Homo sapiens: one gene and its partners. The gene in region 5 interacts genetically with the main gene of each other region. Each region holds a gene or a part of one and is shown on either strand. Other genes may lie near its edges. The genes, in order: NAA50, FIP1L1, POLE2, DHODH, TIPIN, RBBP8 and TIMELESS.

Region 1 (3,146 bases), on a different chromosome or scaffold from region 5:
TTAATAGGGCCTTTTAATAATTTATCCTCTTACAGTGAAAAAATTTTGATAGCTGTGGTACTTTTCCCTTTGTTGACTACAAGAATAAACACTGAGCCTTCTAATCTCAGCCAGCTGTCTTACAAATGTAAAAATTAGATTAAAAGTGTAAAATTGTCATCAAAAGGTTTTAGGTAAGCATGCCTAACCCTTGTTGATTACTGGTAGTTGTAAAGAGAATGTAACAGATGTTTGGAGCTATCTGTGGAGAATGCTTAAAACTTGATGAAACCTTAATTTTAATTTTTTTTCTGATACTCTCTTATATCTCAGGCATGTCCAGATCAGCAATGAGTCGGCAATTGACTTCTACAGGAAGTTTGGCTTTGAGATTATTGAGACAAAGAAGAACTACTATAAGAGGATAGAGCCCGCAGATGCTCATGTGCTGCAGAAAAACCTCAAAGTTCCTTCTGGTCAGAATGCAGATGTGCAAAAGACAGACAACTGAACAAATTACAAATGAACTTTCTTGCACTTGCTTGTCGCCAAATAAAAGAGAGGCCCATTGATTCCTCCCCCACCCCAACACTTTTCTTTTAAAGCTTTTCTCCCTCCTTGTTCTTGTTTTTCTTTCTTCCTTTCCTTTTCTCTGAGAGTTTTAATACTTTCAAGGACTTTAAAAAAATAATCATGTTTGAATTGTTTTCTCTTATTTTTGTGAGGTGGTTTGAAGGAAGGACAAGGTAGATCTGTTTAGTTTTGCAGTTGAAGTTAGATGGTCCTAAACATTTAATTGTCAAATAATTTCAAATTTAATGTCCTGCTTTCACATTGAAGGGCAGAGCCTACAAAACATTGTATATTTCAAAAGACAAAAAGAAGCAGCAGCAGTATCTTGTTCTCTAATTCATAGACAAGTTGAGTGTGTTTGTGGTACTTTGGGTTTTTAAACACTTTGGGATACTAATCCCTAGACATTGCCTTCACTCCACCTTTAGTCCTTCTGAGCACTCTCTCGGGAGTTGGAACATTGTTATCCTTGTAAGAAATACTAAGCTTATGTTGATTTTTAAGTAATTATATCTTCTCTTCTTGCTGGTGGGTGGGGCAGTTTGGTTTAGTGTTATACTTTGGTCTAAGTATTTGAGTTAAACTGCTTTTTTGCTAATGAGTGGGCTGGTTGTTAGCAGGTTTGTTTTTCCTGCTGTTGATTGTTACTAGTGGCATTAACTTTTAGAATTTGGGCTGGTGAGATTAATTTTTTTTAATATCCCAGCTAGAGATATGGCCTTTAACTGACCTAAAGAGGTGTGTTGTGATTTAATTTTTTCCCGTTCCTTTTTCTTCAGTAAACCCAACAATAGTCTAACCTTAAAAATTGAGTTGATGTCCTTATAGGTCACTACCCCTAAATAAACCTGAAGCAGGTGTTTTCTCTTGGACATACTAAAAAATACCTAAAAGGAAGCTTAGATGGGCTGTGACACAAAAAATTCAATTACTGTCATCTAATGCCAGCTGTTAAAAGTGTGGCCACTGAGCATTTGATTTTATAGGAAAAAATAGTATTTTTGAGAATAACATAGCTGTGCTATTGCACATCTGTTGGAGGACATCCCAGATTTGCTTATACTCAGTGCCTGTGATATTGAGTTTAAGGATTTGAGGCAGGGGTAATTATTAAACATATTGCTTCTATTCTTGGAAAAATAGAAGTGTAAAATGTTAATAATACAAATGTCACTGTGACCTCCTCCACTGAGAGGACTGGTTTATGCCAGATCATTTTCCGGCACACACGGAGTGGCTTTGACAGATTGATAACTTTGTAAGATGGGAGACATCTGAAATATTCATGTTTTCCTTTTGTAGTCCCATCTCCACTATTTAGAAATGTTCTCAGACTTTAAAATAATGCACAGGGCTTGAGCTTTCTGTCATTTGACTTTAAAAGGAAGTTTCATTCATATTTATCCTCTTATGTAAAATTGCGGTATAAAGTCTCATTTCCAAATATGTTAAATGACAAAATTATTTTATAAAATGTTTATGCACACTTTATAACCTTAAGTTTTTATTTGAGAATGTGAAAGTACAAAGTGCAGTAGACTTCAACAATCTTGAGTGCCAAGAATAATACAGAAAAAGAAGACAGTTGATGAATGAGTTTATAGGGTTCTAATCTTAAGATGGTAAAAATGTAGAAAGACCTTGCTGGTTTTTTGGGGGTATTCGTTTCTTAAACAATCCAAATCTAAGCTTAGAAGAAAAGTTTAGCGTTAAGCACCTTTATCTTCATGAATAAGCTTCAGCTTGCTCTTGGCAAGAGAAGAGTGCTTGAGTTACAGAAGGCATAAGTAGTTTGAAGAATGCAGCAGCCTTTTTGTAAACTTCCCAGATATCAAAATAGACTTTGATATATAAATGGTTTTCTGAGATGACACTGCCTCTATTTCTATAACCATTTCACCTGGACTATCTAATCAGTCCTATGAATGTATCCCTAAATGTGGTTATTGAAAACCTAATAGCTGCCTCATGACAAGTACATGTTATTTAAGGAGGAAAAAATATTAAATTTTGAATTGAGTGTGTAGGCTCCCTATCATTATATATAGAGTTTCTTTTTCCACGGTAGTCAGTGACTTAACCTGAATTGTAAATGTTTGTAAAGGGTTAATTGTCCTACATCAAACTTAGTTAAATAATTCCATCCACTTATGGAGGAGGAGGAGAATGTGGAAGAGGTAAAAAGCTGGGCACAAGTTCATATGCCTATGAGTCAGTAAAGACTGAAGTAATGTCCTATGTTGAGCTGGTTATTTTGATATATGATAATAATTATCTTTGAAGTAGAACAATTCTGTTAACTGGAAAATCACAGGATATATCCATCATATTTTTCAGGACAGATAGTTTTTACTGTGGGGCAAATAGGTTAAAATTACACTATGTTAGTTGCATTTAGGTTTTAAAGCAAAGAATCTGTAGAGAAATCTATGCAATATATAGTTTGTCCAGATTAGCTTTCATTTGGGGAATGAAGTTCTGAAATATCTAAAGCAGTTTACTCATCAATTGAAAAGTCCTCCAAAAAGAGAACTATTGGGAAACCATGGTGTGGTGGTGGAAAAGAAAAGCTCCCTCAGTTTTTTGGAGGGAAT
Region 2 (3,500 bases), on a different chromosome or scaffold from region 5:
GTTCAGCTTCCTTACCCAAAAAATCCCCTATAGTCTTTTCACTCATTGGTATATTATCTGAAATGTTATTTCATTTTAAAATTTATATATTCAACTCAGTTCCTAATTCTGATCTCAACCACAAAGTTGAGATTAGTTTTAGTTTATGTTATGAAAGTGATTGAATATTTCTTTGTACCCATTCCTTCAGTTGGTCAAGAAATTAATTACAGGTATAGTTTTACAATCAAATATACTTTTCTATATGATAATCTTTATCCCATTAATTTTTATTTTTATTGGTTACAATTTTAAAAGCTTACTTTCTAATCAAACATTCTTTAATTTTAATTCCGCAATACACAACTTGCTAAAATTTATTGGAGGGAACCTTCTACCTTCCCTGAGTGTCACTGTCAACATAGCTTTATATTCCTTTCTGCAACTTCATTTGGGGAGCCGTTGAGTTGATTTCATCCTATGGGGGAAAAAACAATTTCCTTTACAGTGTTATTTTTCTAGAAAAAGCTTAAAATTTTATCATGTTTCTAACATTTTAATGGTGATAGAAAATTAAAACTTCCAAAAGAGTAGGCCTATTGAAGAAAGGTACTCTGCCAGACCTACTGCTATCTGGCTTGGTACATCATTGCATTGCTCTACCAAAGTTCCTGCTATTAGAATTTGCCCGTTTCCTACTGACTGGCTCATTGCTGAAGCCTCTGTTTTTCTTAAACATTGCATTGCAGTCTCCAATTGTGTTATATCTATCCAAGTTTTGACTAAAGAAGGGATACTGTTTTGTGACGTAGAAAGCAAATGGGACTTGCTTCTGGCTACCTAGAAGCTTATTTCAGCAGGAGGTAAATGTACTGAACAATTATAGCTGCATATTTGTTTTCTTGAAGCAAGCAGTAGAACAATGAAAATATAACAGTTATGTTTTGACTTTTTATCTTTCATTTTGCTTTATTTGGTGATTGTGCTATAAAATGCCACTGTAAAGATCAAATTGATTTAGGATAATTAAAATTGATTAAGTTTGTCATATATTTTTAAAATGTGTAAAAAGCTTGAATTATAGCCCACCATCAAATTATAAATCATTAATAAACTGTGAAGGCATTTGCATTCTTTTTTTTTTTTTTTTTTTTTTTTGAGACAGCATCTCACGCTGTCGCCCAGGCTAGAGTGCAGTGGCATGATCACTGCAGCCTCACTGCAACCTCTATCTCCTGGGTTCAAGCAATTGTCTGCTTCAGCCTTCCGAGTAGCTGGGATTACAGGTGCCCGCCACCATGCCTGGCTAATTTTTTTTTTTTTGTATTTTTAGTAGAGACGGGGTTTTACCATCTTGGCCAGGCTGGTCTTGAATTCCTGACCTCGTGATCCACCCACCTCAGCCTCTCAAAGTGCTGGGATTACAGGCATGAGCCTCCACGCCCAGCCTGGCATTTGCATTCTACTTACAATGTTGAGTACTTGTCTTCTGCAAGTTACTAGAAATAACGGAATAAGACAGTCAGATTTTACCATTACTGTCTCCAGTGGAGACAATAATTTTAGGAGCTTTATTAAAGCTTAGAAATACTAATATAATCTATCTGTACTTCCGAAAAGTAATGCCTGACATGTATACTTACTTTTGTTGTTTGTAGTGCTAATCCTCCATCTGGAATTGAAGATGAAACTGCTGAAAATGGTGTACCAAAACCGGTAACATAAGGCTTTGAAATCCAGTTACTGATACAAATCTTTATCAATAGCTTCACAGTTTACATAGAAAGCAAGCTGGCATTTTACATTACCTTCAGTATCAGGTGTTATCTGGCCCTTTCTTACATCTCCTACTTCATCTGGTGCCATCAAAAACATATATAGGAATTAAAATGAGGAAAAGAAATAGTAGAAAGACTGCAGAGGAAAATAGTATGTGCAAAGGCTTGATGTTTATTGCTTTCAAGGAATTGAATGGTTATAAATCTACTGAATATAGTGAGCCTGGTTTTCAGAGCAAGTTTTGAGCCCACAACCTTTCACTGTTACGATTTTTTAACGTTGCTTTTTAATGTATGTGACAGTCCCTGACTGCATGCCTGCATGCCATTGATACTTTGTGAGGTGAACATATCATTGGTCCTATGAATATTTGTGCATTTTAATCCTATAAAAGGAAGGAAGTTATTGTTCCGGAAGTTTGAAGTTGTATACAAAAAAGTATTTTGCCTATGTGATCTACTTATTTACTATGATGTGATTAAGCACAAAATAGCCTTTAAGAGCCAAAGTAAAATCTTCACAAATATAGAATTTGCATGTAGGGCCTCTTCTAGGTATACAAGAATACCAAGAATAACTGAGCTTCTACTTAACTATTTGGTACTTCTTATGCTTTGGGGTTTTTTTTTTTAATTCTTTAATTGATTTGGTACATTGTATTTGTGACACTGTGAATCTTAAAATTGTTTTCCTCTTAGATTCTTTTTTGCCAAGACTTCTCAAATACTTATTTTTTATAATTTTATCTTGTAGGTATCTTAGTAAGTTGCTTTAGATCTTTTTGCAAGAGGGGCAGATATGATAGTTAAAAAAAAAATGAGGTGTTGTTTACCACAAGGAGATGATGCCAAAAAGATTTCATTTCTTTATTCATAGTCTTATCCTTTTTATCCTGTAGAACATCAAAATTATGAGTTGAAATAGGTGGCAGCATTATAAGCTTGTAACTTTTAAATTGTATCTCAAAAAAATACAGAGTGGGGCCGGGCATGGTGGCTCACGCCTGTAATTCCAGCACTTTGGGAGGCCAAGGTGGGTGGATCACCTGAGGTCAGGAGTTCGAGGCCAGCCTGGCCAACATGGTGAAACCCTGTCTCTGCTAAAAATACAAAAATTAGTTGGGCATGGTGGCGGGCACCTGTAATCCTAGCTACTCTAGAGGCTGAGGCCGGAGAATTGCTTGAACCTGGGAGGTGGAGGTTGCAGTGAGCTGAGATCATGCCACTGCACTCAAGCCGGGGCGACAAAGTGAGAGTCTGTCTCAAGACAGAAGAAAGAAAAAAAAAAACAGGGTGGTTACTTTTTTTAGTTATTAGTATTAGATGTTGAAATGGATTACTGAATGTATTTTATAATTTGTTTATGTTCATGTAGAAAGTGACTGAGACCGAAGATGATAGTGATAGTGACAGCGATGATGATGAAGATGATGTTCATGTCACTATAGGAGACATTAAAACGGGAGCACCACAGTATGGGTAAGTTATTTTTTAGTAAGTAACAATTGTGTAAATGCTATATAGTAAGGAGAGTGTGCCTATATCAAACTCTCAGTGGTTGAGTCCATTGTTTTTACATTTTTCTATTTTAACATAAAAGAACTTGTTAAAGTTTCATCATGAATATACTTCTTTGCTAAAATACAGTTAATTGATTAGGCGAAGGTACATAGAAGCAGCAGTTTTTGATGCTGAATTTAAAGTGTTTTTATAAAAGAATTGAGTGCTAGGCCAGGCATAGAG
Region 3 (3,500 bases), on a different chromosome or scaffold from region 5:
CTGGTCTCGAACTCCTGACCTCAGGTGATCTGCCCACCTCGGCCTCCCAAAGTGCTGGGATTACGGGCATGAGCCACTGCGCCCAGCCTGCTTTTCTGCTTTCTTACCCCCAAGAGCAACACCTGGACAAGGGGCTTTACTGAGTGGGGGTGGAATAGGGGTTGGGAAAAGGAAAACTGATGCGATATGGTACATGGCTCTGTGCAGGACTGTTGAGCTCATATTACGTTCTGCCTCCAAATCTGGGAGCAAGAGAATGTATAAACAGAAGAATAAAGTGAATGCAGATTGGTGTGGGGGAAAATAAGTAAATAAATAAATAACAGGTAACTTTAGGGTAAACAACGAGTAACGTCTATTTTAGGATAATAATCAAACTTCAGTACAATCATTTTGAATTTCTATTGATGGCTTTAGGAACATTCATTATACTCCAGTATTTATTTTATGTATTTTTTTTGAGACAGAGTCTCACTCTGTCGCCCAGACTAGAGTGCAGTGGTATGATCTCAGCTCACTGTAACCACCACCTCGCAGGCTCAAGCAATTCTCCTGTCTCAGCCTCCCAAGTAGCTGGGATTACAGGTGCGCCCCACTACCGCCCAGCTAATTTTTGTATTTTTAGTAGAGATGGGTTTCACCATGTTGGCCAGGCTGGTCTTGAACTCCTGACCTCAAGTGATCCAGCCACCTTGGCCTCCCAAAGTGCTGGGATTACAGGCATAAGCCACTGCATCTGGTCACACTATAGTATTTTAAATGAGTTTGCAAGGGTAAAATTAAAAATCCTCAATTTCTCTATTTTTTTTTTAGCAGTTATAAGTTCTGACAGGGAGAAGATTATAACTTCTGACTAAAATAAAGATAATGACTCCTTTCAATCATCTCCATTGCCCCAAATAGGAAAGAAGTGGCAATGTTAAAACTGTCTCTCAGCCCATTTTCCCCAGTGTTTTCCTTCCAGTTAAATGCCATCAATTTGTATAGAAGTATCATATCAAGAGGAAAGAGGGATATTCAGAGAAATAAAACCCAGAAGAATTACTGCCATATAAATTCTTAAACCTAAAAACATGACATAGTGGAGTCACAAAACTGAGGTCCTACCCTCATTTGCCATTCACCATGTGACCAAGTAAAGTTGCTGAACTTCTCTGGACATGGTACTTTCCTAAGAGCAAAGTAAATTATACTTCTGAATATTCATTTCAATTCAACTCATTTGTAGCATACAGAATAAAAAGTCAGATCAACCGGTTGGGTAGGCAGCAAAAGTTAGTAATGAATGGTACAAGCAACACTGTAACCTCAAATCCCAGGAAAAACCAGTAAAGATGAGTCATTTAATAATGAGGTTTGCAAAGAAAGCCATTATTTAAAAAGACACACAGAAATAACAACAGTAATCACTGTAGAAACGTTGATCACTAATAATTTTCCAAGACAATAATTAAAAATAAGTGCTCAATAACACCTCCAAGGAGGAAAAAAGTTAACTGTACCCACATACATAGTTTCATCAACAGACTGACTGCATTCCTGGACTGCTGCTTCCACCACAGATCGTTCAATCATGTTTGATGACACTGAAAAGAGAATTTCAAAGTCAAAATTTAAAAACAAAAAAAAAAATAGTTCTTTCCACAGACAGCTCTTTTCCCAAAAATAATTTGCAAATATTAATACTGAGATTCTCATTATACAGTTTTTGGAGAAAAAAAGTGTTAGGTCAGAACAATAACAAAAGCCTTATCTCAAATACCTTCATTTTCCACACTCAAAGTTACAATACCTTAATATACAGTCAAATGCCTTAATTTTCTAAACCCTGTTTAGTTATAAGAACATTTCTGAGCTAGGGTCGGTGGCTCACACCTATAATCCTAACACTTTGGGAGGCCAAGGCAGGAGGATGGCTCGAGCCCAGGAGTTTGAGACCAGCCCAGACAACGTGGTGAAACCCCTTCTCTACAAAAAATATAAAACTTAGCTGGGGGTGGTGGCACATGCCTGTAGTCCCAGATACTCAGGAGGCCAAGATGGGAGGATCACCTGAGCCCAGGGAGGTGGAGGCTGCAGTGAGCTGTGATCATGCCACTGGCACTCCAGCCTGGGCCACACAGAGTGAGATACTATCTCAAAAAAAAAAAAAATTCTCTAAGCTCCCAGTTTTAATAAGGTTACATTAGTATAACTTTATCATCATAACTGCTCAGTTTCAATGAGCATGATAGTAACAATAGCAGCTACCACTTATTAAGCATTGAGTAAATGTGTGGCACCATCCTCAGTACTTTATTTACAAGTATTATTCCACTGGGTAGATGTCCTGTAAGACTGATGTTAAGATGCCCATATCTTATAGATAGGGAAAATACAACTTTAAGAGGTTGAAAATTTTGCCCAAAAACTAGAAGAGATAGAGAGCAACAAAAACCCAGGACTGATTCCAGTGGGGGCTCTTTTAATCACTTTGATATGTTGTCAAGCAAAATACCATGTGCCATCTTAAATCAATGTACACAGGGACAAGTATCATTTTCTTTTTTTTTTTTTTGAGACGGAGTCTCGCTCTGTCAGCTAATTTTTTGTATTTTTAGTAGAGACGGGGTTTCACTGTGTTAGCCAGGATGGTCTCGATCTCCTGACCTCGTGATCCGCCCGCCTCAGCCTCCCAAAATGCTGCGATTACAGGCGTGAGACAAGTATCAGTTTCTAAATGTTCAACTGTAAAGGAATTTTTTAAGCAAAGGTATATGTAAAATTCTGCCTTTAGGAATGAAAATGAGATATAATAACCATTTATCCTGTATCACGGAGTATGTTTCTTCCTATATAATTGAAGTGACTAGCATCTATATAACATTAAGAGTGAACTCGGCACTTCTCAGCCTTTTATGCTAAGATAAAGTGGACAGTGAGCCATACCCACTTCTATCCTCAGGGTGCTATAAATATCAGACTTTTTTTCCAAGGGGAAGAGCATTTCTTCTTTCCAGTCCCATGCTTGTGGTATTAAGTATTTAACAAAAAGGTCCCTGAATCCCTATGGCAGTGTGGCAGTGGCAAGAGGAAACATGCTGATACAGTTTTACTGACAGGTTGAATAGAGAGGTGTCTCAGAAAACTCCCCGAAGTATATGGCTGAAATGGACTGCAAATCATAAAAAACTGGAACAGAGGTTTAGTTCATGTATTGGTGGCCCCATTCTAGCTTCTTTGGGCATGTTTCAACAGATGTGACTTTCCAAAAAAGAACATGAAGAAAGAGAGGAGGGGCCAGGTGTGGTGGCTCACGCCCGTAATCCCAGCACTTTGGGAGGCCAAGGTGGGTGGATTACCTGAGGTCAGGAGTTCAACACCAGCCTGACCAATATGGTGAAACCCTGTCTCTACCAAAAATATAAAAATTAGCCTGGTGTGGTGGCACGCACCTGTAGTCCCAGCTACTCAGGAGGCTGGGACAGAAGAATCGCTTGAACCCGGGAGGCAGAGGCTGC
Region 4 (3,500 bases), on a different chromosome or scaffold from region 5:
ATTTCTTTTCAGGAAAGCCAGCCCTCAGACGTGAGGAGTACAGTCGAGATGGATCCGATTCCATTCTTTTAGGCCAAGGGATCCCGTGGACATTGGCTAATAGCTCAAGGGTGTTTTAGACTTTTCTTTTCTTTTTTTTTTTTTTTTTTTGAGACAAGGTCGCACTCTGTCACCCACACTGGAGTGTAGTAGCATGATCACGGCTCACTGTAGCCTGCACCTCCCTGGGCTCAGGCGATCCTTCCACTTCAGCCTCCAGAGTATCAGGGACTACAGGTGTGCACCACCATGCCCAGCTAATTTCTGTATTTCTTGTAAGATGGGGTTTTGCCAAGTTGCCCAGGCTGGTCAGCTCCTGAGCTCAAGTGATCTGCCTGCCTCGGCCTCCAAGTAGCTGGGGCTATAGGCTTGAGCCACTGTGCCTGGCTAATTTTTAAATTTTTGTAGAGACAGGGTCTTGCTCTTTTGCCCAGGCTGGTCTCAAATTCCTGGGTTATAAGTGATCCACCTGCCTTGGCCTCCCATAGTGCTGGTATTACAGGCATGAGCCACGGTGTCCAACGTTTTTTAGACTTTTATTCCTAAAAGATAACCAGGAAATATTACCACATGTACTGGGTGATGAAGTCCTTCAGTTCACTCAGAGCTCTGGGCGCTAGGGTCAGAGTGACAAATGAGAGAGACGTGGTGTCTGCTCTTACAGACCCCGTGATTTATAGCAGCAGGGACAGATAATTTGTCACCGTCGCATATAATCAGTGTCATGAGAGGGGATCAGAGGGGACTCTGGGAAGGTATAGCCAGGGGTCCTACTGGTCTAGGTGCTAAGGACAGCTTCTGAGGGTGATGCTGAAGGTTCGCCCTGGAGAATGAAGGGGAGCAGGTGGGACAGGCTGGTGGGACAGGGCCTGGAGAGGGGTGCAGCTGCCCACCTTGGTCAGCAGGCGGCGCAGCTCGGCCTTTCCCTGAAGGCTCCGCAGCCCGGCAGTGTTGGGGCTGGACACATTCACCACCAGGTAGTCGGCCAGGGGGCCCAGTACGCGCACCCCTTCTGCGTAGTCCTCCGCGGCGTCCACTGAGGTCTTGTTCTTCCCCAAGTTGACCCCCAGAGGCAGTCCATCTGCAAACATCGCTGGTCAGGCCTGCACCCCGCACACCCTTTCCTGTGCCACCTTCTGAGGCTGCCCTTGACCAAACCACCTGTGGACAGCCGCGCAGGCCTTCCCTCCAAACCTGACCTGCCCGACACCGGCTGACAGGTGCTCAACTGCGGCCTGGGCCCGCCTGCTGACCAAAACCACTCACTGGCTTTGTCTAGCAAAGTCTGGGCAGCTACGAGGATGTTTTGCTGCATTTTGCCCTTTTTATTTTTAAAATTTTCATGGAAAATGGACAAATTACTGCAAATACTTGTGGGGCAAAAGATGGGCCTCATAAATTGAATAAAACTGAGAACAGAGAGAACTCAGTAGGCACATCAGGCCCGCAACTCTCACCTCAAGGAATGCTTGTTGGCCTTGGCTCGGTTGACTGGATGTACAGTTGCGAAGAAAAAACAAAATGAAAGAACATGTATAAAATACTGAAAAACAGGCCAGGTGCGGTGGCTCACGCCTATAATCCCAGCACTTTGGGTGGTCAAGGGCAGAGGATTGCTTGAGCCCAGGAATTCAAGACCAGTCTGGGCAACATGGTGAAACCCTATCTCTATAATTGAAAACTCAGCCGGGAGCAGTGGTGCACACCTGTAGTCCTAGCTGCTCGGGAGGCTGAAGTAGGATTGAGGCTCCAATGAACCGTGATCGCGCCACTGCACTCCAGCCTAAGGAGCAGAGCAAGACTCTGTCTCAAAAAAAAGAAAAAAAAAAAAAATATATATATATATACACATATATATATATATATATATATATACACATATACATATACACATATATATATACTGGAAAATGTTTTTTGTTTTTTTTTTTGAGATGGAGTCTCACTGTTGCCCAGGCTGGAATGTGGTGGCACAATCTTGGCTCACTGCAACCTCCGTCCCCTGAATTCAAGCAATTCTCCTGTCTCAGCCTCCTGAGTAGCTGGGATTACACGCATGTGCCACCACGCCCAGCTAATTTTTGTATTTTTAGTAGAGATGGGGTTTCACCATGTTGGCCAGGATGGTCTCCATCTCCAGACCTCATGATCTGCCCACCTCAGCCTCCCAAAGTGCTGGGATTACAGGCGTGAGCCACTGCAACCGGCCTAATTTTTGTATTTTTAGTAGAGAAGGGGTTTCACCATGTTGGCCAGGCTGGTCTCAAACCCCTGACCTCAAATGATCCGCTTGCCTTGGCCTTCCAGAGTGTTAGGATTACAGGCGTGAGCCACCATGCCCGGCCAAATGTTTTCAATTATCATGCCTAAAATGTAGAGGTGTAATTGTTTTCTAACTTATAATTTTAGTTCTCTGAGGAAAGGGACTCTCCCTCATATAATAACTGAGGGTACCCTGTATCTTAGGTGCTCCCTGGACAACCTGATTACTCCCCTAGCCTGGGCATCATTGTTAACACCTGCCCCTTTTTACTCTCAAGAGGGTCTCAGTTTACATGTAAGCAATTAGGTCAGCTTACTTAAAAATCCACAGGACTATCAATGGACTTGCATTTTGGACCTCCAGAAAAAATACATTTTCAGAAACACACTATGTGTAAAAGAAACGGGTTGTCTCTACTTGACTTCTTCTAAGTTTACTATCTTATCTGCACGGGGAGTGGTACATCAATGGTACAGGCTGTACTTTTGATCTGAGAGTTGGGGGAAGAATTAGAACACCAAGTAGCTCACAAAATGTGTTGTCAGGCCAGAGAGGATCAAACAACATCTATTGTACTGCTCACCACCTTCCCAACCCCAATCACACTCTCGCATCATCAGCAAATGAGATGAGTGTAGCTACTTTCCAGGGTGGGGACTGGAGGAGGGGATCAGAACCCAATTAGAAGCCGGGCGCAGCAGCTCACGCCTGTAATCCCAGCACTTTGGGAGGCTGAGGTGGGTGGATCAATTGAGGTCAGGAGTTCAAGACCAGCCTGGCCAACACGGTGAAACCCTGTCTCTACTAAAAATATAAAAATTAGTCAGGCATGGTGGTGGGCGCCTATAATCTCAGCTACTTGGGAGGCTGAGAAAGGAGAATCGCTTGAACCTGGGAGGTGGAGGCTACTGTGAGCTGAGATTGCACCACTGTTGCCTGGGCAATAGCGGGAGACTCTGTCTCAAAAGAAACAAAGAATCCAATTAGACAAAAGGTTTATCATAAGGTCTCCAAGCTTCCCAGTCTAGCACCCATCAAGCCAAGATCATCTGTAAGCTTGAATTCTTTTCCTCACAAGTAAACTGACTTGAAGGAGAATATCACTTTCATGTAGCTAACGGATTAGGAGTCATCTGCCCAAACTGACAAGATTTGGGAGTTAGACAGAAATTGCTGGATTACTCTGTCCCCAGAGGGC
Region 5 (3,500 bases):
AAGATTCTACAAAATAACAAAATGCCTGTAGGTAGAATAGAAGCACAAGCAAAAAATAAAAAAAACAGCAGAGCTGACACTTTACCTTCTATCTACATCATCCATATTATGAAATTAAAAGAAAGATAAACCCCATCACATCTGACAAGTTGGTCAAAAAATTCAAGTCACCATTTGAAATATTTATATACATTATCCTTGTTCTATGTATATATTATGCCTTGAAATATTAGCTAATTATAGAAAAACTATCACAATTAAAAAAACATTTAAAACATAAAGACAGACCTTTACAATTATTTCAGTGAGATTTAAAAATCATGATACTTAATTCAGCCCTTTACAATCAAACTCCCTTTTAAGGTTTCTTCCTTAATAGTGAAAAACGAAAAGCCACTTTTCCTTCCTGACATGGAAAACAAAAATGTAGGAAGAAACTAAAATGGCCTCCATTGTCAGGAAATACTGATAAGAGTATATGTATGAAACATTGCTGAAGCAGTTAAGAAACAAGCATTAGAGCCACTTATGAGCCAGGCGCAGTGGCCCACACCTGTAATCCCAGCACTTTTGGGGGCCGAGGCAGGCAGATCACCTGAGGTGAGGAGTTCAAGACCAGTCGGACCAACATGGTGAAACCCCGTCTCTACTAAAAATACAAAATTAGTCGGGCATGGTGGCACATGACTGTAATCCCACCTACTCAGGAGGCTGAGGCAGGAGAATCACTTGAACCCGGGAGGCAGAGGTTGCAGTGAGCCGAGATCACACCACTGCACTCCAGCCTGGGCAACAAGAGTGAAACTCCGTCTCAAAAAAAGAACCACTTATGAAACATGGGGTTTTTAATGTGCTTCATCTTACAGGGTTGCAGGATTCTAAATCAATAAGAAAATACATAAATAACTACTTTTTTTTTGTTTTTTTCAAGAGATGGGGACTCACTCTGTCACCCAGGCTAGAGTACAGTGGTATGATCATAGCTCACTCCAGCCTCAAACTCCTTGGACTCAAAGGATCCTCCTGCCTCAGCCTTCTAAATAGCTGGGACTATAGGTGTTGACCACTCTGGTCCCTAACTCCTGGCTTCAAATGAACTCAAAGAACTAATTTTGACTGGACAAGGTGGCTCACGCCTGTAATCATGGCCCTTTGGGAGATTGAGGCAGAAGGATTGCTTGAGAACAAGAGTTCAAGACCAACATCACCAACATAGCAAGACCTCGTCTCTATTACAAAAAAAAGTAAAAAAAAAAGCAAAAAACTACTTTTTATGAACCAAGAAAACAAAGGTATCTTCAGTAGTAAATGACCTATTTATATAAACAATATATTTTGTAAGCAGCAGCTGGTTCCTTTGAGTAGGATTAAAATGAGATTTAAAGCTGGGTGCAGCAGCTCACGCCTATAATCCCAGCACTTTGGGAACCCAAGGTGGGAGGATCACATGGACCCAGGAGTTTGAGACCAGCCTGCAAAACATAGGGAGACCCTTTCTCTACAAAAAAAAAAAGAAAAAAAAAAAAAAGAAAAACTTGGGCAGGCAGGTGGTGCATGCCTGTAATCCAAACTACTCAGGAGACTGAGGTGGCAGGATTGCTTAAGCCCTGGAGGTCGAGGCTGCAGAGCTATGATCATGCCACTGTGCTCCACCCTGGGCAACAGAGTGAGGCCCTGCCTCGAAAAGAAATAAGTAAATAAAAATGAAATTTTAAAAAATTAGAAGTACGCATGAAATTCATTTACTGCAACATTCATTGGCAAGTGATTATGGCAAAGAAGCTAAAGCTAGAAATATTCAGTGTGTTACAGGATGCCGTCATTGTAGTAAAGACAAACTAAAACATAAGTAAACTATATAAAAATTAAAGGGAAACAAGGGCAATGCAAAAGGAAACAGCATAGGGGAGTCAGAAATGATGGGAGTGGGGATGCAACTATAACAGTGTAATGGGGAGGCTTCACCAAGTTGTCATTTGAGCACAGTTTGAGGAGTGTAAGACAGTCATGCGGACTTGAGGGGTACAAGGGAAGAGTGTTCCAGGCAGAGTACGGCAATACAAAAGCCTTAGAATAAAAATGTGCCTGAAATGTCCAAGGAACAGCTGGAGGCCAAGCACAGTGGCTCACACCTGTAATCCCGGCACGTTGGGAGGCCAAGGCAGACTGTTTGAGGCCAGGAGATACAGACCAGCTTGGGCAACATAGTGAGATCCTGTCACTACAAAAACTAAATTTAGGCCGGGCACAGTGGCTCACTGGCTCACGCCTGTAACTCTAGCACTTTGGGAGGCCAAGGCAGGTGGATCAACTGAAATCAGGAGTTTGAGACAAGCCTGGCCAACGTGATGAAACCCTGTCTCTACTAAAAATACAAAAATTAGCCAGGTGTGGTGGTGCACACCTGTAATCCCAGCTACTGGGAGGCTGAGGCAGGAGAATCACTTGAACTGAGGTGGAGGTTGCAGTGAGCCGAGATCGCACCACTGCACTCCAGCCTAGGCAACAGAGTGAGACTCCGTCTCAAAAAAAAAAAAGTACATTACAAATCACATCCGTATAGAAGTAAATGTATTTAATCAACAAATAAAATGGTCAAAACATTTTTACTTCTGTGGCACCTGATCAAAAAAATTTGGAGACTATTAAGATACAAATTAAATATATGACACAACAAACAAAAATCTCAGATTCAGTTCTCTTATTTGTACCCTATATTTCAGCATGCTTGTAATTCTCTGAATGGTCCATGTTAATTTATCTCCTTTTTTTTTTTTTGAGACAGAGTTTCACTCTTTTTGCCCAGGCTGGAGTGTAATGGCGCAATCTCGGATCACTGCAACCTCCGCCTTCCGGGTTCAAGCAATTCTACTGCCTTAGCCTCCCGAGTAACTAGGATTACAGGCATGTGCCACTACGCCAGGCTAATTTTTTGTATTTTTAGTAGAGATGGGGTTTCACCATGTTGGCCAGGCTGGTCTCGAACTCCTGGCCTCAAGTGATCCGCCCGTCTTGGCCTCCCAAAGTGCTAGGATTACAAGCGTGAGCCACTGCGCCTGGCCTTAATTTATCTTTTTTTTTTTTTTTTTTTACTGCCATAGAATATAGAGCCTGAAATCCAAGTTAATTTACACCTCTGCATAGATGGCTCCCCCATTCAAAATCACCTCTGCCTGACCTCTACTGTTCATTCAAAATACTTTTTTTCTTTTTAATTTCTTTTTTCTTCCTCTCACCCCCAAATCAAAATTCTTCTGAATCCTCCTTTGTGAAGTTCTCCCTCTACCCCCAGGGACATGTAACTATGCTCTCCTTTGCATCCCACCCTGCGACCTACTCATACCTCTAATTACAACACCTACCACACTACTGGCAATGTTGTATGTCTGATTCATTCACTACTGTATTTGCCCACAAAGGGGCCTGATCGTAGTCATTTTTTTAGCCCTGAACCTTTATCACATACCGGGCACCTCAAAAAGTAACCCAGTAGTATATGC
Region 6 (3,500 bases), on a different chromosome or scaffold from region 5:
AGCTGGGACCACAGGCACACACCACCATGCCTAGCTAATTAAAAAAATGTTTTTTGTAGAGACAGGGTCTCGCTTTGTTGTCCAGGCTGGTCTCAGACTCCCGGACTCAAGTAATCCTCCTGCCTTGGCCTCCCAAGTGTGTGCCACTGTGCCCAGCCTGACAGCATTCTTAATAATGAGTGGGACAATTCCTTTCACTGTTAATTTGTGCAGTCTTAAGATAATGTTCTCTTTTTAGAATTTTTGATTCTATGTATAGAAAATAAATGGAGCAATTAAAAAATGAATCAAGAAATATTTATCCTGTCCTATTAGAGCCCCCAAACTTTCCCATTTCTTCAAGGTGTTTCAACTTTGCCTCACAAAACCTACCTAGTTTTCTTTGAAACTGATTACCATATTTACTAGACACAGAAAATATATTAGCTAGATGTTAATAGCAGACGCTGGCATAGGCAAAAGATCATTTATTAAAATAGTGGTATTCTGAAAATAAATATTTTAAATTCTATTTTATTATTTGTGCTTTTGATAATAAACTTGATACTGAAAAAGATTTTTAAAGGCAATAAAATTTTGTACCCAAATAAATATGCTTTAAAACTTTTGAAATTTAAAGAATTCTGAAGTTTCCATTAAATTCTGTGAGTTCGGAATTTAAAGCATAAACACTGTATATCATCAGTAACAATCTGTGACACTGATACTAGCAGCATTTGTCACAAAAGGAACATATCATGAAATGATACAATCATGAAAGGATAAAATTATCTTAAAGGATATAAAAACTCGGTCATAAATGTCTCCAGAATTTTTCAACAAAAATGGTCTGGTTTGCATATTGCTAGTCTCCAACAGAAATTAGAGCATTTTGTCTATTCTTGCCTAGTTTTAAAAGACATGGATGCAGTTTATTATATTGTTGTGATCAGTGCACATACTGTCATATTTTGCTATCATTTTATTATGTTTTGGCAAAAGAGGCAAAAATAATTCTAAACACGTGTAGCAGAGCATTCAGATTCAAGCAAGTTCCTATGGGTACATTTCTGTAGCTAAGTAAAAACTATATATCTCAAATATTACCATTCCCAACATTTCTCTTTTATTTTTTACTGACATGAAGCTTTAAAAGTCATGAGTCAATTTTGATTCCTATATATACCTTAAAACCTGCAAAGTCCAGACAAGTCCATGTTTGATGTCTTTCAAACAGCTTCTTACACTGGTTTCTACAAATGGATTCCCCACCTCCTTAAAAAAATTAAGTTCCCTTCAGGCATGTCTTTGATGTTATCATATAGAGACTCTAATTTTATATGGAACTATGTGGAACATATTGACGAAGGCATGGCCCAAACCAAAATGTTTTAAAATGACATATCTACTTAAAAAATAGTACTTATTCATTTAATACCTTTAAGAATCCATAAGTTATTTGAAATTGGGAAAGTGGCATGATCAATATAACGTACCAAAGATTATCTTCTCTTATGAGCTCATATATCCAATACCTAATATTCATAAAACACATGGACCTTATCATATACACCAACAATTACTGTATTCCTCCCTTAAAGTTATTCAGAGTATAGAAACTTTTGTGGGAATGTGATTAGAACATAACCATGAGGAGTACACTTTAAAGGAATTATCTACTACATAATATTTGCAAGCTTTATATATTCTATAATTTGATAAATATGGCATATTGTTCCTATTAAAGAGTATACCATTTGTTTCTTGATGCTTCCTCACTGTAAAATAGGGATTTCATGAAGATCCTGTAACACCAAAGAATAGGAAGAAGAAATCTGTCAAATATTTTATTTCTATTAAATTAATAGCTTATAAATAGCCAGGCACAGTGGCTCCTGCCTGTAATCCTAGCACTTTGGGAGGCCGAGATGGGCGGCTTGCTTGAGGTCAGCAATTCAAGACCAGCCTGGCCAACATGGTGAAACCTCATCTCTACTAAAAATACAAAAATTAGCCAGGAGTGGTGGTGCGTGCCTGTAGTCCCAGCTACTTGCGGGGCTGAGCCAGGAGAACTGCTTCAACCTGGGAGGCAGAGGTTGCAGTGAGCTGCGATCATGCCACTGCACTCCAGCCTGGGTGACAGAGTGAGACTCTGTTTCAAAACATAAAAAACAAAAATAGAAATCAAGAGTTTCAAGAAAGTTGCAGAATATAAAATCAACTCACTAAAACCAGTTGTATTTCTATACACTAACAATGAACAATCTGAAAAGCAAATTAAAAAAACAATTCTATTTACAGTAGCATCAAAAGAATAAAATACTTAAGAATACATTTCACCAAGGAGACAAAAAACTTGTACAATGACAATCAGAAAATGTTGCTGAAAGAAATTATAGAATGACCAGGTGTGGTGGCTCACACCTGTAATCCTAGCACTTTTGGAGGCCAATGAGGTCAGAGGACTGCTTGAGCCCAGGAGTTGAGACTAGCCTGGGCAACAAAATGAGATCCCTGTCTCTATAAAAAAATAAATTAGCCAGGTTCGGTGGTGCATGCCTGTAGTCCTAGCTACTCTGAAGGTGGAAGCGGAAGGATTGCCTGCACCCTGGAATTTGAGGCTACGGCGAACCATGATTGTGCCACTGCACTCAAGCCTGGGCAATGAGGCAAGACCTCATCTCTAAAAATTAGTAATTAAAAATTAAAAAATCTTAAAAAGAAATATAGACCGGGCGCAGTGGCTCACGCCTGTAATCCCAGCACTTTGGGAGGCTGAGGCGGGCGGATCACGAGGTCGGGAGATCGACACCATCCTGGCTAACACAGTGAAACCCCGTCTCTACTAAAAATACAAAAAATTAGCCGGGCGTGGTGGCGGGTGCTTGTAGTCCCAGCTAGTCAGGAGGCTGAGGCAGGAGAATGGCATGAATCCAGGAGGTGGAGCTTGCAGTGAGCCGAGATCGCGCCACTGCACTCCAGCCTGGGCTACAGAGCAAGACTCTGTCTCAAAAAAAAAAAAAAAAAAGAAATATAGAAGACACTAATAGAAAGGTATCCCGTGTTCATGGACTACAAAACAATATTGTTAAGATGTCAATACTATATAAAGCAATCTACAGATTCAATGCATTACCTATCAAAATCCCAAATCCCAAAATCCCAACATTTTTTGCAGAAATAGAGAAATCTGTCCTAAAGTCAAGGCAAGATGACAATCTCTTCAGCATAGCACATACCATTTTACATAATTTGGATCTATGTACATTTCTAGCATCATATCCTATCCACCTCCCCCAAAACTCCAATCTCCCATTCCATTTCCTCTTAGAACTAAACCTAACTATCCAGAGTTCCTTGAATAAAATCAAGCTCTTATCTGCAAACTTTTGCATGTGCTATTCTCTCTACTCAGAAAATTCCCTCCCCTTCCACCATCTTCCTTGCCTGGCTAATTAGACTTAATTATCAAGCCTGGTCTGACATAAACCATGCACAAACCCACTTCCCCATGCAACCAC
Region 7 (3,500 bases), on a different chromosome or scaffold from region 5:
ATTGGGGAAGTGATAAATGTCCATGAAATCTTCATAATTTATGTTCACAGATTGCAGTAAAGACAGGCGTAATAAATTATGAAAGTATTAATTTGGGGAACTAATAAATGTCCATGAAATCTTCACAATTTATGTTCTTCTGCTGTGGCTTCAGCCGGTCTCTCCATTCGGGGTCCCTGACTTCCCGCAACATCATCTATCTTATATCACTATAGAGGGTCGTTTGGTTTTCTCCAGCACATCTGGGCCTAGATTTGAATTGAAGTCTAGGAAGCAGATGGTTGCATTGATCTGAGGTTATGTATGGTCTTTTGCAGGGTGAGTGCACTGAAAGGAAAAGAGATAGAGGCCACACGGGAAAATGGCCAAACTGATGTATATAGTGATACAGTAGTAGGATATGTGTGACCCTGGTTTGATCATTTTGTTTTCTAGCTCAGAAATCTTCAGTGGCTCCCTGGCTTAGGTTCTAAATCTTTGAACTGATGGACAAAGATGAGGTTTTTCCCATAAAGCTGGTTCCAGCTGCTTTTCCATTGCTTTCCTGTTGGACTCATCTATTCATAATGGCTCCCTCTTTGGTTTTGCACTGGCAGTTCTCTGCTTAAATGCCCATCCTATTCCCAGCTGCCTTAATCCTATGCAGCTTTCAAAGGCCCAGTTCTAATCATGCTTCCTCAGACAAAACCTCCTTGACCACTTTAACCTGAAAAGAGTACTAGTTTTTTAGTTTTTTTCAGTATCACGTATTTAGAGCTTGTACTGCCTTATCTTTTACATTGTTTGTTCTATATTTGTGGATTTTATTTCTGCAACTACATTTCTTTTTTTTTTTTTTTTTTTGAGACGGAGTCTCACTCTGTCGCCCAGGCTGGAGTGCAGTGGCACGATCTCAACTCACTGTAACCTCCACCTCCCTGGTTCAAGTGATTCTCCTGCCTCAGCCTCCCGAGGAGCTGGGATTACAGGCACCCGCCACCACACCTGACTAATTTTTTGTTAGTTTTAGTAGAGACGGGGTTTCATCATGTTGGCCAGACTAGTCATGAACTCCTGACTTTGTGATCCACCCGCCTTGGCTTCCCAAAGTGCTGGGATTACAGGCGTGAGCCACCGCGCCTGGCCTCTGCATCTACATTTCTTAAATTTCTTTAGCGCTACCATTGCACCTGCACGCTATCTTTTGCCAGGAAGGTTCTCCCTAAGCATTTAGTAACTGACTATAGAGTCTGACAGATGGAGAGGAAATTAATATTTGGGGCGGGGGAGGGGTTCTGTTTGTTTTGTTTATTTGTCTTTTGAGACAGGGTCTCACTCTGTTACCCAGGCTGGAGTGCAGTGGCACAATTTCAGCTCGTTGCAACTTCAACCTCCTGGGCTCAAGTGATCCTCCTGCCTTAGCCTCCTGGGTAGCTGGGACTAAAGGTGTACATCAGCATGCCCGGCTGATTTTTGTGTTTTATTTTTTGTGGAGACTGGGCTTCGCTATGTTGCCCAGGCTGGTCTCAAACTCCTGGACTCAAGTGATCCTCCCACCTCAACCTCCCAAAGTATTAGTATTACAGGCGTGAGCCACCATGTCCAGCCAGGGATTCTTACTTTGTGCTCAGCACTGGGTAGAGTGCTTAATATCACTGCTTCTCAAACTGTCTTGGTAAAGGACCAGGTAGATTTTTCCCTCAAGCTGTTGCAGATCAGTAGTGTTCTAAAAGCACTTCTGTAAAATAAAATTACTAGAAAAATAACATTTAAAAAGACATAGAGAATACAGGCTTTTTATTATTATCATCATTAGATTCAACAAACATTGGCTGGGTGCAGTGGCTCATGCCCGTAATCCCAGCACTTTGGGAGGCCGAGGTGGGTGGATCACTTGAGGCCAGGAGTTCAGCAGCCTAGGCAACATGGCGAAACCCCATCTCAACTACAAAACACAAAAAAATTAGCCTGGCATGGTGGCACAGGCCTGTAATCCCAGCTACTTGGGAGGCTGAGGCACGATAATAGTTTGAACCCGGGAGGCAGAGGTTACAGTGAGCCAAGATCACGCCACTGCATTCCAGCCTGGGTGACAGAGGGAGACCCTGTCTCAAAACAAAACTGTAAACTGCCTGTCAAATTGCCCTAAGATGTTCTAAGTGCTAATGCTTTCTTTCTGTACTTACCTTGATGCAGACTGCTAATAGTTTGTGGATTGGCAGTGGTCTGAAGACCAAGGTTTGAGTAGCATTGCTTTACATGATCTCATTTACACTTCCCTAATATCTTGTGAGGGTGGGTATTATTATTATTTCCTCAGTATACTGATAAGGAAAGAGATTTAGTTAAGCCACCTGCTCAAGTTCACCAGTTTAGTACCAGACAGAATTGGAATTCAAGTGCTAGATGCCATTTTGTTCATACTACTGGGTCTCAAAGAGGATCCTTGGAGCAGAGTTGGTTTGGGGCAGGTAGAGTGTTTTGTTTCGTCTTCAAAAAGTAAGTTTATTTGGTCGGGCGCAGTGGCTCATGCCTGGTATCCCAGCACTTTGGGAGGCCCAGGTGGGCAGATCATGAGGTCAGGAGTTTGAGACCAGCCTGGCCAATATGGTGAAACCCCATCTCTACTAAAAATACAAAAATTAGCTGGGCATGGTGGCGCGTGCCTGTAGTCCCAGCTACTTGGGAAGCTGAGGCAGAAGAGTTGCTTGAATCCAGGAGGTGGCGGTTGCAGTGAGCTGAGATCGTGCCACTGCACTCCAGCCTGGGCGACAGAGCAAGACTCTGTCTCAAAAAAAAAAAAAAAAAAAAAAAGGTTAATTTGAATTGCAAATACATTTAATATTTTATCTGTTGTTTTCTTTTGGTTCTTGCATTTTAATGCCTCCAAGTATTGATTTCAGATGCATATTGCTTCATCTGAACTGCTTGATACTTAGTTGAGTAGGAAAAGTAACTAACATCCCTTTTAAATGTCCAGTTCCATTGGCTCTGTGGTGTTTGACAAAGTTCTCACCTGGTCTATGATGAAATGTGAAAATAAAGTCAATGTAATGAATTTTTTCATGAAGTCATATTTATTAAATTTGAAGGACAGTATTTTATCCTGAGATTTTTGTCTGTAGTTTTTTTGGTGTTAAAATGGTAGAAACAGAATGCGTATAGTAATTGTGTGGAGTGTTGTTTATAACGGCTGTTTGAGATATAATTCATATACTGTAAAATTCACCCTTTTAAAGTGTACAATTCAGGCTAGGTGTGGTGGTTCACACCTGTAATCTCAGCACTTTGGGAGGCCAAGGCAGGAGGATTGCTTGAGGCCAGTCAGGAGTTTGAGACCAGTGTGGGCAACATAGGGAGGTACCAGCTCTACACAAATTTAAAAATTAGCCAGATGTGGTATTGAATGCCTGTGGTCCCAGCTGCTTGGGAGGCTGAGGTGGGAGGATTGCTTGGGCCAAGGAGTTGAGGCTATAGCGAGTCATGATTGATCTGTACTCCAACCTGGGCTGGTCAACAGA

The links.
Region 1: changes in TIPIN (region 5) and NAA50 together harm fitness more than expected from each alone (negative genetic interaction), as found in Homo sapiens cells (one large-scale study listed by BioGRID).
Region 2: changes in TIPIN (region 5) and FIP1L1 together harm fitness more than expected from each alone (negative genetic interaction), as found in Homo sapiens cells (one large-scale study listed by BioGRID).
Region 3: changes in TIPIN (region 5) and POLE2 together harm fitness more than expected from each alone (negative genetic interaction), as found in Homo sapiens cells (one large-scale study listed by BioGRID).
Region 4: changes in TIPIN (region 5) and DHODH together harm fitness more than expected from each alone (negative genetic interaction), as found in Homo sapiens cells (one large-scale study listed by BioGRID).
Region 6: changes in TIPIN (region 5) and RBBP8 together harm fitness more than expected from each alone (negative genetic interaction), as found in Homo sapiens cells (one large-scale study listed by BioGRID).
Region 7: changes in TIPIN (region 5) and TIMELESS together harm fitness more than expected from each alone (negative genetic interaction), as found in Homo sapiens cells (one large-scale study listed by BioGRID).

Annotation. Positions count from the first base shown.
Region 1 is NC_000003.12:113,719,104-113,722,249, reverse strand, and holds part of NAA50 (N-alpha-acetyltransferase 50), read left to right. Parts: intron 1-312; coding exon 313-490; 3' UTR 491-3,146. UniProt on the Homo sapiens protein: N-alpha-acetyltransferase that acetylates the N-terminus of proteins that retain their initiating methionine. Has a broad substrate specificity: able to acetylate the initiator methionine of most peptides, except for those with a proline in second position.
Region 2 is NC_000004.12:53,380,641-53,384,140, forward strand, and holds part of FIP1L1 (pre-mRNA 3'-end-processing factor FIP1), read left to right. Parts: intron 1-1,637; coding exon 1,638-1,695; intron 1,696-3,132; coding exon 3,133-3,236; intron 3,237-3,500.
Region 3 is NC_000014.9:49,678,215-49,681,714, forward strand, and holds part of POLE2 (DNA polymerase epsilon subunit 2), read right to left. Parts: intron 1,587-3,500; coding exon 1,511-1,586; coding exon of another isoform or gene 1,507-1,510; intron 296-1,506; exon of another isoform or gene 94-295; intron 1-93. UniProt on the Homo sapiens protein: Accessory component of the DNA polymerase epsilon complex. Participates in DNA repair and in chromosomal DNA replication.
Region 4 is NC_000016.10:72,018,744-72,022,243, reverse strand, and holds part of DHODH (dihydroorotate dehydrogenase (quinone), mitochondrial), read right to left. Parts: intron 1,121-3,500; coding exon 933-1,120; intron 1-932. UniProt on the Homo sapiens protein: Catalyzes the conversion of dihydroorotate to orotate with quinone as electron acceptor. Required for UMP biosynthesis via de novo pathway.
Region 5 is NC_000015.10:66,343,186-66,346,685, forward strand, and holds part of TIPIN (TIMELESS-interacting protein), read right to left. Parts: intron 1-3,500.
Region 6 is NC_000018.10:22,939,828-22,943,327, reverse strand, and holds part of RBBP8 (DNA endonuclease RBBP8), read right to left. Parts: intron 1-3,500. UniProt on the Homo sapiens protein: Endonuclease that cooperates with the MRE11-RAD50-NBN (MRN) complex in DNA-end resection, the first step of double-strand break (DSB) repair through the homologous recombination (HR) pathway.
Region 7 is NC_000012.12:56,439,427-56,442,926, reverse strand, and holds part of TIMELESS (protein timeless homolog), read left to right. Parts: intron 1-3,500. UniProt on the Homo sapiens protein: Plays an important role in the control of DNA replication, maintenance of replication fork stability, maintenance of genome stability throughout normal DNA replication, DNA repair and in the regulation of the circadian clock.